3 linked regions of the Homo sapiens genome follow. The protein of the gene in region 1 purifies or fractionates together with the protein of each later gene. This does not show direct contact. Each region holds a gene or a part of one and is shown in the gene's direction. Other genes may lie near its edges.

Evidence for each region. Proteins that work in one complex are often made in the same cells at the same time.
Region 2: the proteins of HROB (region 1) and MCM8 purify together in Homo sapiens (affinity purification with western blotting; one study listed by BioGRID). This does not show direct contact.
Region 3: the proteins of HROB (region 1) and MCM9 purify together in Homo sapiens (affinity purification with western blotting, with the first as the bait; one study listed by BioGRID). This does not show direct contact.

Annotation. Positions count from the first base shown.
Region 1 is NC_000017.11:44,148,430-44,151,929, forward strand, and holds part of HROB (homologous recombination OB-fold protein), read left to right. Parts: coding exon 1-598; intron 599-2,531; coding exon 2,532-2,615; intron 2,616-2,621; exon of another isoform or gene 2,622-3,185; intron 3,186-3,500. UniProt on the Homo sapiens protein: DNA-binding protein involved in homologous recombination that acts by recruiting the MCM8-MCM9 helicase complex to sites of DNA damage to promote DNA repair synthesis.
Region 2 is NC_000020.11:5,985,152-5,988,651, forward strand, and holds part of MCM8 (DNA helicase MCM8), read left to right. Parts: intron 1-770; coding exon 771-980; intron 981-2,130; coding exon 2,131-2,207; intron 2,208-3,500. UniProt on the Homo sapiens protein: Component of the MCM8-MCM9 complex, a complex involved in the repair of double-stranded DNA breaks (DBSs) and DNA interstrand cross-links (ICLs) by homologous recombination (HR).
Region 3 is NC_000006.12:118,827,160-118,830,659, reverse strand, and holds part of MCM9 (DNA helicase MCM9), read left to right. Parts: intron 1-1,409; coding exon 1,410-1,612; intron 1,613-2,529; coding exon 2,530-2,733; intron 2,734-3,500. UniProt on the Homo sapiens protein: Component of the MCM8-MCM9 complex, a complex involved in the repair of double-stranded DNA breaks (DBSs) and DNA interstrand cross-links (ICLs) by homologous recombination (HR).

The DNA of each region.
Region 1 (3,500 bases):
CCAGAAGGGGCCTGTGCCTGCCATCCACAAAGCGGGTATCATGTCCGCCCAGGATGAGTCTCTAGATCCTGTCATCCAATGTAGGACTCCACGACCCCCCTTGAGACCTGGTGCTGTGGGTCACCTTCCTGTTCCAACTGCCTTAACAGTTCCCACTCAGCAACTCCACTGGGAAGTCTGTCCGCAACGCTCCCCTGTTCAAGCACTTCAGCCTCTCCAAGCTGCTAGAGGGACCATTCAGAGCAGCCCTCAAAATCGTTTCCCTTGTCAGCCATTCCAGTCTCCAAGTTCCTGGTTAAGTGGCAAAGCTCATTTACCCAGACCTCGAACTCCCAACTCAAGCTGTTCTACTCCCTCAAGGACTAGCTCTGGATTATTTCCTCGGATACCCTTACAACCGCAAGCTCCAGTGTCTTCCATTGGGTCTCCTGTTGGTACCCCAAAAGGTCCCCAGGGAGCTCTGCAGACACCCATAGTCACCAACCACCTGGTGCAGCTAGTCACTGCTGCCAGCCGGACACCCCAGCAGCCCACCCATCCCTCCACCCGAGCCAAAACTCGCCGTTTCCCTGGCCCAGCTGGGATCCTGCCTCACCAGGTGAGTGAGCTGGCTTTCTAGGATTTGGTGGGCAAGGGAGAGAAGCAGGGTTCCAGCACTGTCCAGCCCTAGCATATCTTCCCTCTTGCAGAGAAGGAAGGAAGGAAGTGCAGAGAGGCTTTTCAAAGCTGCAGGAGAAATAAAAGGGAAGAACTGAATGCTAGAAAATCCACTGTGAAGAAGTGCTTAAGGCTCTGAGGACATCATAATTTTCTTTTTTCTTCTCCTTTTTTTTTTTTGAGATGGAGTCTTGCTGCAACATCCAGGCTGGAGTGCAGTGGCGCAATCTCAGCTCACTGAAACCTCTGCCTCCTGGGTTTAAGCGATTCTCCTGCCTCAGCCTCTTGAGTAGCTGGGACTACAGGCCCCCGCCACCATGCCTGGCTAATTTTTGTGTTTTTGGTAGAGACAGAGTTTCACCATATTGGCCAGGCTGGTCTCGAACTCCTGACCTCAAGTGATCTGCCCGCCTCGGCCTCCCAAAGTGCTGGGATTATAGGCGTGAGCCACCACGCCTGACCCTCTTTTCCTTTTTTTAAGAAGACCCTCTTTTCCTTTTTTTAAGAATTAGAGATTGGCTATGTTGCTCAGGCTGGTCATGAACTAGGCTCAAGCCATTCTCCCGCCTTAGCCTCCCATATAGCTGGGACTACAGGTGTGCACTAGGGCAGGAAGTCATTCTTGTGCATTTGTTAAGGTCTTATGTGTTGGACAATTTGCTTGGAACTGAGAATACAGAGATTAAAAGAAACAGTTCCTGTCCTAAAGAACTTACAGTGAAATGGAAGAAACAGATGTAAACAAACAAACATGCACAAAGCACACAGTGTGAACAGGGGTCATTCCCTGGGTGCTGGGAAGACACTGGCTCTGCCTTAGGCTTGCTGAGTGGGCTTTGGATGGATGAGTAGGAGGTTAACAGGTGTGTGGCGGAGCGGGCGCTGTGCTCTGTGGATGTTCTGGCAGTGGGAAAGCAGGGAAGAGCATGTGTAAGGGCACAGAGGCAGAAGAGCAAGGTGCTCTCAGATCCACAGAACAGTTCATTGTGGCAGGTGTGGGGAAGCTGGGGCTGAAAAGGAGACAGCCCTGGTGAGACTTGGATTAAACTAGTCTTGGATCAGATCCCAGATAATTGGACTCTGAGGATCTGGACTGGTTGTGATAGGTGTGCCCTCTTCCTCCCATTTTAAGGGTGTTTGAAACAATTTCTGCCTGTTACTTGCTCTTCCCTAGCATGTTAGCAGATATCCAAAGAGGCCGTCTATGTTCCTCCTGGGCTGGATCTCCCTGGAGGAAAGGGTTAGGACTTGGGGAAAGCTGCCCCTTTGCTCATCACAGGCCTCTCAATTTTTCTTTCTTTCTTTCTTTTTTTTTTTTTTTAAGACAGAGTCTTGCTCTCTCGTCCAGGCAGGAGTGCAGTGGCACAATCTCGGCTCACTGCAACCTCCACCTCCCAGCTTCAAGTGATTCTCCTGCCTCAGCCTTCCAAGTAGCTGGCATTACAGGCATGGGCCACCACGCCTGGCTAATTTTTGTATTTTTGGTAGAGATGGGGGTTTCTCCATGTTGGCCAGGCTGGTCTCGAACTCCTGACCTCAGGTGATCCACCCGCCTCAGCCTCCCAAAGTGCTGGGATTACAGGTGTGAGCCGCCACGCCCAGCCAGGCCTCTCTATTTGGGTCACTGCCCCCTTCAGGCAGCCCTGGTTTTTGCACCTGGGCGAGCTCCGGCTTCCTCACGTTTTCAAACCAATCCCCAAAGTATCTTTTTTGAGCTGCCAAAGAGGCTCCTGAGACTTTGTTAGGAGAGATGTAATATGTGTTAATAGTCCCTGATCATTTCCTGAACTCATTATGTAAACCAGACAATAAGCTGTACTTGTAAATAACAGCTGCTAAGCTTGCTCTCATCTTCTCCTTCCCTCCCCTCTTAGCAGAGTGGGAGAAGTCTGGAGGACATCATGGTTTCCGCGCCCCAAACTCCAACCCATGGTGCTCTGGCTAAATTCCAGACAGAGGTAACTTATGCAAATGTTAACTTTCTGGGTGTGATTTGAGAGTGAGGGGCGTCCCTGTGTGTTTCAGGAGTTAAGAATCAAGAGCTGATGCTGCTAGGCCTGTTTGCTGGTGTCACACACTAAAAGGCATTTGAGGCAGGTAGTTGGGGGAGGCAGCAATTTTACTGGCATTAAGTGAGGCCTGTCCTGGTGCCAGGTAGGTATTATCTGATGCCATGGGTCCAGCCTTCTTTCCCATCTAAGAAATAAAGGCCCAGCTAGCTCCAGCTTCCCCTGGGGGAGGAGACTGTGATAAGTATTATGAGATTGTGTCTCAGGAGCCCTTCCTCTCAGGTTTCTGAGAACTGAGCTGGGAAGGATCTGCCTTCTCTTGCCTTTGCTGGGTTCCCTTTGGTGGGTGAGACCCTGCTTCCCTTCTCCTTGGGGTTCTGGTTGACCTGCTCTGCCCTCAAACCCAGTTTTGCTTTTAATTCTCCCCAGTATTTTTTCTCTGCTGTAGCTCCGCAGATCTGCCAGTCCATTTCAGATCCAAAGCAGCAGATACTCTCTGGATTCAAAGCATGTATTAATGTAAGAAGGTTAATTGTTAAAGCTAGAAGCATGCCAAATAGAATATGACTGGTTTCAAAATGGCTAAGCCACTCTGGAAGCCTATAAATATATGTGGTGGATCCCTACCCCTAAGACTTTTTGAGTCTGTTACAAAAAATAAGCGTAGATAGCCTTCTGCTTCAATGCAGTTAAAGTCAGGAGCTGATTTTATTTTATTTTATTTTATTATGTTATTTTATGTTATTTTATTTTATTTTATTTTATTTTTGAGACGGATTCTCGCTCTGTTGCCCAGGCTGGAGTGCAGTGTCGTGATCTCGGCTCACTGCAACC
Region 2 (3,500 bases), on another chromosome or scaffold:
ATAATCCAAGTCGGCCTGGCGTGGTGGCTTATGCCGGTAATCCCAGCACTTTGGGAGGCCGAGGCAGGTGGATCATGAGGTCAAGAGATCGAGACCATCCTGGCCAACATGATGAAACCCCATCTCTACTAAAAATACAAAAATTAGCTGGGCATGGTGGTGCGTGTCTGTAATCCCAGCTACTTGGGAGGCTGAGGCAGGAGAATTGCTTGAACCTGGGAGGCGGAGGTTGCAGTGAGCTGAGATCTCACCACTGCACTCCAGCCTGAGTGACAGAGCGAGACTGTCTCAAAAAAAAAAAAAAAAAGGAATCTAAGTCAGCTAAGATGAGACCTACAGATAAAGTGTTTGGTTGATTTGGAGAGTCTTTTAGAATTGTATATTTATCTAAACAAGTTATTTATTTATTCTGAGACATAGTCTCACTCTTATCGCTCAGGCTGGAGTGCAGTGGTGTGATCTTGGCTCACTGCAACCTCTGTCTCCCGGGTTCAAGTGATTCTCCTGCCTCAGTCTCCCAAGTAGCTGGGACTCCAGGCACGTGCCACCACGCCCGGCTAATTTTTGTATTTTTGGTAGAGATGGGGTTTTGCTGTGTTGGCCAGGCTAGTCTTGAACTCCTGACCTCAGGTGATGTGTCCTCCTTGGCCTCCCAAAGCGCAGGGATTACAGGCGTGAGCCACTGCACCTGGCCTAAACAAGTTATTTTAGCAGAAATATTTTATTTGCTACTTATCCTTGTTATCTTGGGCCTTTTAATCATGCTTCAGGTGGTTCCTGGAGAAACAATAGATCCCATTCCCCACCAGCTATTGAGAAAGTACATTGGCTATGCTCGGCAGTATGTGTACCCAAGGCTATCCACAGAAGCTGCTCGAGTTCTTCAAGATTTTTACCTTGAGCTCCGGAAACAGAGCCAGAGGTTAAATAGCTCACCAATCACTACCAGGCAGCTGGAATCTTTGATTCGTCTGACAGAGGTTTGTTTCTTTTTATGGTCATGCTTTTTTTGGCTTAAAGGGGAAGGGTGTGCCTTGACTTCTCTTTTGAAGTATTTTCTGCATAATTGACTCCATTTTCCTTTCTATAGAGAGATGTTAGAAATGGATGGATGAAAGTTTTTTAAAAGATTTTGTCATGTCTATAACATATCCAAGTATAGCTACTTCTTTCTAGTCACAGAATCAATTACTTAGCATGCAACTTTTCTTTTGTTTTTCTTTGACTGACTCTTAGGAGACTCCTGGAATATCTGAAAAGTGGTTAGGTTAACTAGGAGTATGAGACCCAAGTTGAGTATATGGGAACATGGAATGTGTCAGGTATCTTGAGTATTTTATTTTTTTACATGACAGGTCCACAAGGATAGTTCCTGTGTTTTTAACAGCAGTAATATCTATTCACAGTTTGAAATACTAAGAGAACTCTGGCAGTAAAAATTAGCTAGCTCAGAGTTTGGGCTTTTTGCTCCTAAAATCTGATTAATTCTTCTTTGTTGTTTTACCATATTGGTTAGGTATGATTTCCTAAAAGTAAAAGGCAAGGGAAAACCAAGTGTATTTCATCATCAAATCTCCTGAAATGATCACTCAGAAATATACGTTAACAAGTAAAAATGAGGTTTATCCTTATTTTAAGTGAGTTGTAATTTTCATAGTCAAGGTTTCACAGATTTTTTTTGTTTGTTTGCCCTGAGTCAGGGTCTCCCTCTGTCACCTAGGCTGGAGTTCAGTGGCATGATCAAGCCTCATTGCAGCCTCTCCTCCCAGGCTCAAGGGATCCTCCCACCTCAGCTTCCCAAGTAGCTGGGACTACAGGCATACACCACCGCACCCAGCTAATTTGAAAATTTTTTTGTAGAGACAGGTCCTCACTTTGTTGCTCAGGCTGGTCTCGAACTCCTGGGCTCAAGTGATCCTCCCACCTCAGCCTCCCAAAGTGCTGGGTTTATAGGCGTGAGCCACCACCCCCAGCCCAGAGAATTACTTCCATATTTTGACTTTTGATGTTATAACCTTCCTCGCCTAAAGGTCAGTTTTTGTGTAAAACAAGTAAATGAAGTAAAGCTTAGACATACTATGGTAAATATATTCATCTTTCGTCATCTGAAAATGGTGTTTTCTTTTAAAGGCACGAGCAAGGTTGGAATTGAGAGAGGAAGCAACCAAAGAAGACGCTGAGGATATAGTGGAAATTATGAAATATAGGTAAGATAAAAATTTCAAATTGTTTTAAATGAAATACCAGTTATCTTCCCATCTCAAATTAGGTAATAGGCCAAGGCTACTTTTATTTAGCCCATTGGGTCACTTATTTTCCTCCTAAACAGAGTACCGTTTCTTAGTTTAAAATATTTCTCACTGTGTAAATAATCTTTACATTAGAAATTTTTTTGAATGAGTAATACATTTACATAGTGCTAAAATCAGTTCCAAAACCTATTGGAGAAGAGCTATTTACCACCTACTCGCCCTTCACCCAGACACCCATTGCTTTTCCACAGTCTGCTGTTTATACTCTTCTGTACTGGTTTTGAATTTTAACAATATATCCAGAGATCTTTTTTTATTAGAGACTCTTTTTTTATAGCTAGAGTATTCTATTGTGTAGATATACTATATAGTATATTTGATCAGTCCCCTATTGACACATAAATATTTTCCATTCTTGTGCTTTTAAATAATGCTACAATGAGTAATGTTCTACGTAAGATACTTCATATGTGGGTAAGTTGTGCACCTACGTGATAAATTCTCAGAAGCGATATTTCTGGGTTCAACAGTAAATACTATAGGTTTTTGATAAATATTGCTAAATTGTATCCTTTGCATTTTACATCATTTAGTAGATAATGATTCCTAGAAGGTAGAAAAGAAAAATTAGTTGAGCATATATGTTTACCTTAGACATAGATTTTTAAAAATCAGTAATATTATTTTGGGTAGTTTTTTTTATTCCAGATAAAAAAATTTTTTTAATAGGTCCATACTTTCATAAGCTTCAAAATTCCAAAGTTCAAAAAGTATAGGCCAGGTATGGTGGCTCACACCTGTAATCCCAGCACTTTGGGAGGCCGAGGCAAGTGGATCACCTGAGGTCAGGAGTTCGAGACCAGTCTGGGCAACATGGTGAAACCCCGTCTCTACTAAAAATACAAAAAATTAGCTGGGCGTGGTGGCTAGTGCCTGTAATCTCAGTTACTTGGGAGGCTGAGGCGGGAGATTTGCTTGAACCTGGGAGGTGGAGGTTGCAGTGAGCTGAGATTGTGCCACTGTACTCTAGCCTGGGTGACAGAGCAAGACTCTGTCTCAAAAAAAAAAAAGTATATAGTGGAAAAAGTTTCCTCCTACTCAGCTTAATAGTTACCCCGTTCTTCCTGCTAGCCAGTGGCAATTATTAGCAGTTTTTTGTGTGACTACATATCTATATATTCTTTTTTCCCCTTTGTAGACAAATGGTAACTATAACAACATACCATATACATGCTATACCTTGCTTTT
Region 3 (3,500 bases), on another chromosome or scaffold:
CATTTTTAAATAAGAAATACAAATAGTCCGTCTTCAGTGTGGGTTAAATGTGCTTTTGTGGGTTACTTAGGAACCGCTTATTACATTGTTCTATGGCAAATTATATTCCAAGTTCTAAACAACTGTCTTTACAAAAGCCATTTTGACACATAAATTATAAGATGTGGACTGTCCAGAATTTTTCCTTGTCACTAATTTTTTAAAAGGGAATTTAGTTTTTGGTAAAAATGCCTTGTTTATCTTTCTCTTATTTATTTAATCAGTGTCTTCTTGTGCCACTTGCCACAAATAAAGATTCTCAAACATTTTCAGCCTCAGGGAATGAAGTAGCTGCTAGCTAGAAATAGATCAGGGATTAACAAATGTAATACATGTTGCTGATGTCATAGGGCTGTGACTTGGGAGGCAGACATCCCACTATAACTAAAAATGGGCATCAAGTGCACAGCATACAAATTTACAGATTCAAATTTTTACATTTGTTATTGCCAATGAATATGTCACATTATTTTGAGAACTAGCCCATCATTAATTAGTTTAAAAACAATATCTAAGTTATGTCACATCCATCCCTATCCTGCCACGCTCCATTTAGGACTACCTTGTCCCTCTACTGGACCATTGTACTAGAGCCCCTACCCTGCATCCTGTCCACAGTCCTTTCCTGTCCAACCCACTCACCAACCCAGTCCTCATCAGACTTCCCTTCACAATGGCTCCTCAAAAACTCAATGCCAAATCAATCATATTTTCTGATTTCCTTTCCCTCCCTCTTTCTCTCTTTTTTGTTTCTTTCGTGTTTAGAAAAAAAATCAAAACAAAATGAGTGAATACACAGAAAGTTTTTGCCTCAACCACTCACTATTCTCCAGAGTCATCCTCACTCTCTACCCTCACCCCCTCTGCAAATGCCTGTCTTTCTCCACCTAAAAATGTCCAGAGGTCTTGAAAGGTTCAGTTCAAAAGCTGCTTCACAGTGTTTGCTTCTGTGTTCATCTTTTCTATCCACATAGATGAATATACATCATCCCTATTTCCCCTGGGAACTTTATTCTTTTAGAACTTAACCATATTCTGCCTTGTGTTACATTATAGCTAGTAGATTGCAAGCCCCTTAAGAAGAGTTTGGTTTAATTTTGGATACTTCTTAGCACTTAGCAAAGGGGTCTCCTCATAGCAGGGGCATAAAAAGTGTTTATTGAACGGTTACTTCTCTTTAAGATAGAATAGTTTCAGTATACTTTGTTGGAAGTTGATGTTTGTGATATCTCCTTCTGTCATTCTACATTTTCTTTCATAGGAGTTCGTAGATTTTCAAGGTGCAAGAGCAGCCCCATTTTATTAACAGCTGTAATCTTGCATTTTATCTGAACCTCACAATCAGTGAATTGTACTGTCTCTCCTGGCAGCCTCGTGTGCAAGCTGAACACAAGGACCACCATCCTGGCAGCAACGAACCCCAAAGGCCAGTACGACCCCCAGGAGTCCGTGTCTGTGAACATTGCCCTCGGCAGCCCACTCTTAAGTCGATTTGACCTGATCCTGGTTTTGCTTGATACCAAGAATGAAGACTGGGATCGTATCATTTCCTCCTTTATCTTAGAAAATAAAGGTACGTGAAGACAAACAAAGCATTCAAAATAACAGAGAGATTAGCTGTAACTAAAAGAAATTCCCTTTCAAGAAAATTAAATAAATACCCAAGATAGGCTATGTAGTACCAGGCAATAGAGAAAAGCTTAGACAGAAAGCAGTGAGAGGAGCCACTTACGGGGCCTCAGAATACTGAGTTGAAGGAAAAGGGCCTTTCTCTACCTGCCACTAATGAGACTAAAGTTGTTATAAATATGTGCCTTATGATGAAAGGGGACAACCTTATGATACAGAATTAACGCTCACCTCTTGCATATAAAACCAGAATGAATTGTGAAACAAATCTCTAAATGTAGGCTTCTCTTTAAATCAGATTTACTCAGGCCGGGCGTGGTGGCTCACGCCTGTAATCCCAGCACTTTGGGAGGCTGAGACAGGTGGATCACCTGAGGTCAGGAGTTCAAGACCAGCCTAGCCAGCATGATGAAACCCCATCGCTACTAAAATTCAAAAATCAGCTGGGCGTGGTGGTGCACACCTGTAATCCCAGCTGCTGCAGAGGCTGAGGCAGGAGAATTGCTTGATCCCAGGAGGTAGAGGTTGCAGTGAACAGAGATCGTGCTACTGCGCTCCAGCCTGGGTGACAGAGTGAGACTCCATCTCAAAAAAAAAAAAATAGATGTATTTGAATATTATTGATTACTGGGCAGACCAGAATTATTCTGAATAATTTTTAATAAAGGCAGGAAGCTTACCTTTATTAAGCTTAGATCATAAGATGCTGATTGTATGCTATGCAGACAAGTCTAGATTTCAATAACCACAAAACATGAAGGTTATCTTTTAACAAATGAGTACCAGAACTTTATAAAAATCCTTAAAATGAGATGTTTGCCTGTCCTAAGAACTTACTGACCCAACACCTGATACATACAGGTTACCCAAGCAAATCAGAGAAGCTCTGGAGCATGGAAAAGATGAAAACCTATTTCTGCCTCATAAGGAATCTGCAGCCCACACTGTCTGATGTGGGCAATCAGGTTCTTCTCCGGTACTACCAGATGCAAAGGCAGAGTGATTGCCGGAACGCTGCCCGGACCACCATTCGGCTGTTGGAAAGCTTGATACGATTAGCAGAAGGTCTATTTCATTCAGCGAATGATGCTTGTATTGAATGCTGCGTGTGTGCAAGGCATGGGGCTTGGCACCATGGATTCAAAGTTGAATGAGAATAACTCCCACTCTAAGGTGCTCATAGTCACTTAAAAATAAAGGCTCTGAGCCAGAAGATCTCTGCTCCTCTGAGGACAGATTATGAGTATTGACTGGAATGTGGTGTCATTAAGAAAGAGGAATCTTTGTGCCATCTCGGGACCTCCTAGAACTTAATATACCATTCACTTAGAAAGCCTTACTTCTGATATTTTGTTTCTCAGTGGTAGCTCTGTTAGCATTTTGAGTAGGACAGTTTCTTGTTTGGAATTGTTTCCCATATAGCATCACTAGTTCTTGCTCATTAATTGCCAGTTGCAGTCCACCCCTGTCATTATAGCAACCAACTTGACAATGCCATGCCCTGCCCCATTACATATATACATATAGCTAACATGTATCTTAATTCTTTTCTTCTAACATTGGCTTTTACATTTTAGCTTTTGTTTAAATCTAAAAAAAGAATTCACATGAACTGAATAATAAAATAAAATAATACAAGCTTAATAAAAAATACTGTAAAACAAATGGACTTTCTTTTTTCAAGGATTTATAGCTAATATTAGGGCAAGAAATACTCAGAATTTAGAATTGCTTGTTTGGTAGCTTTGAAAAGCTCATAGATCATAAAGAGGAGTGCCAGAAATGAAAAATGAGTTTTAATTTTGTGTAGTTTTATAAAAGACTAGAAAATG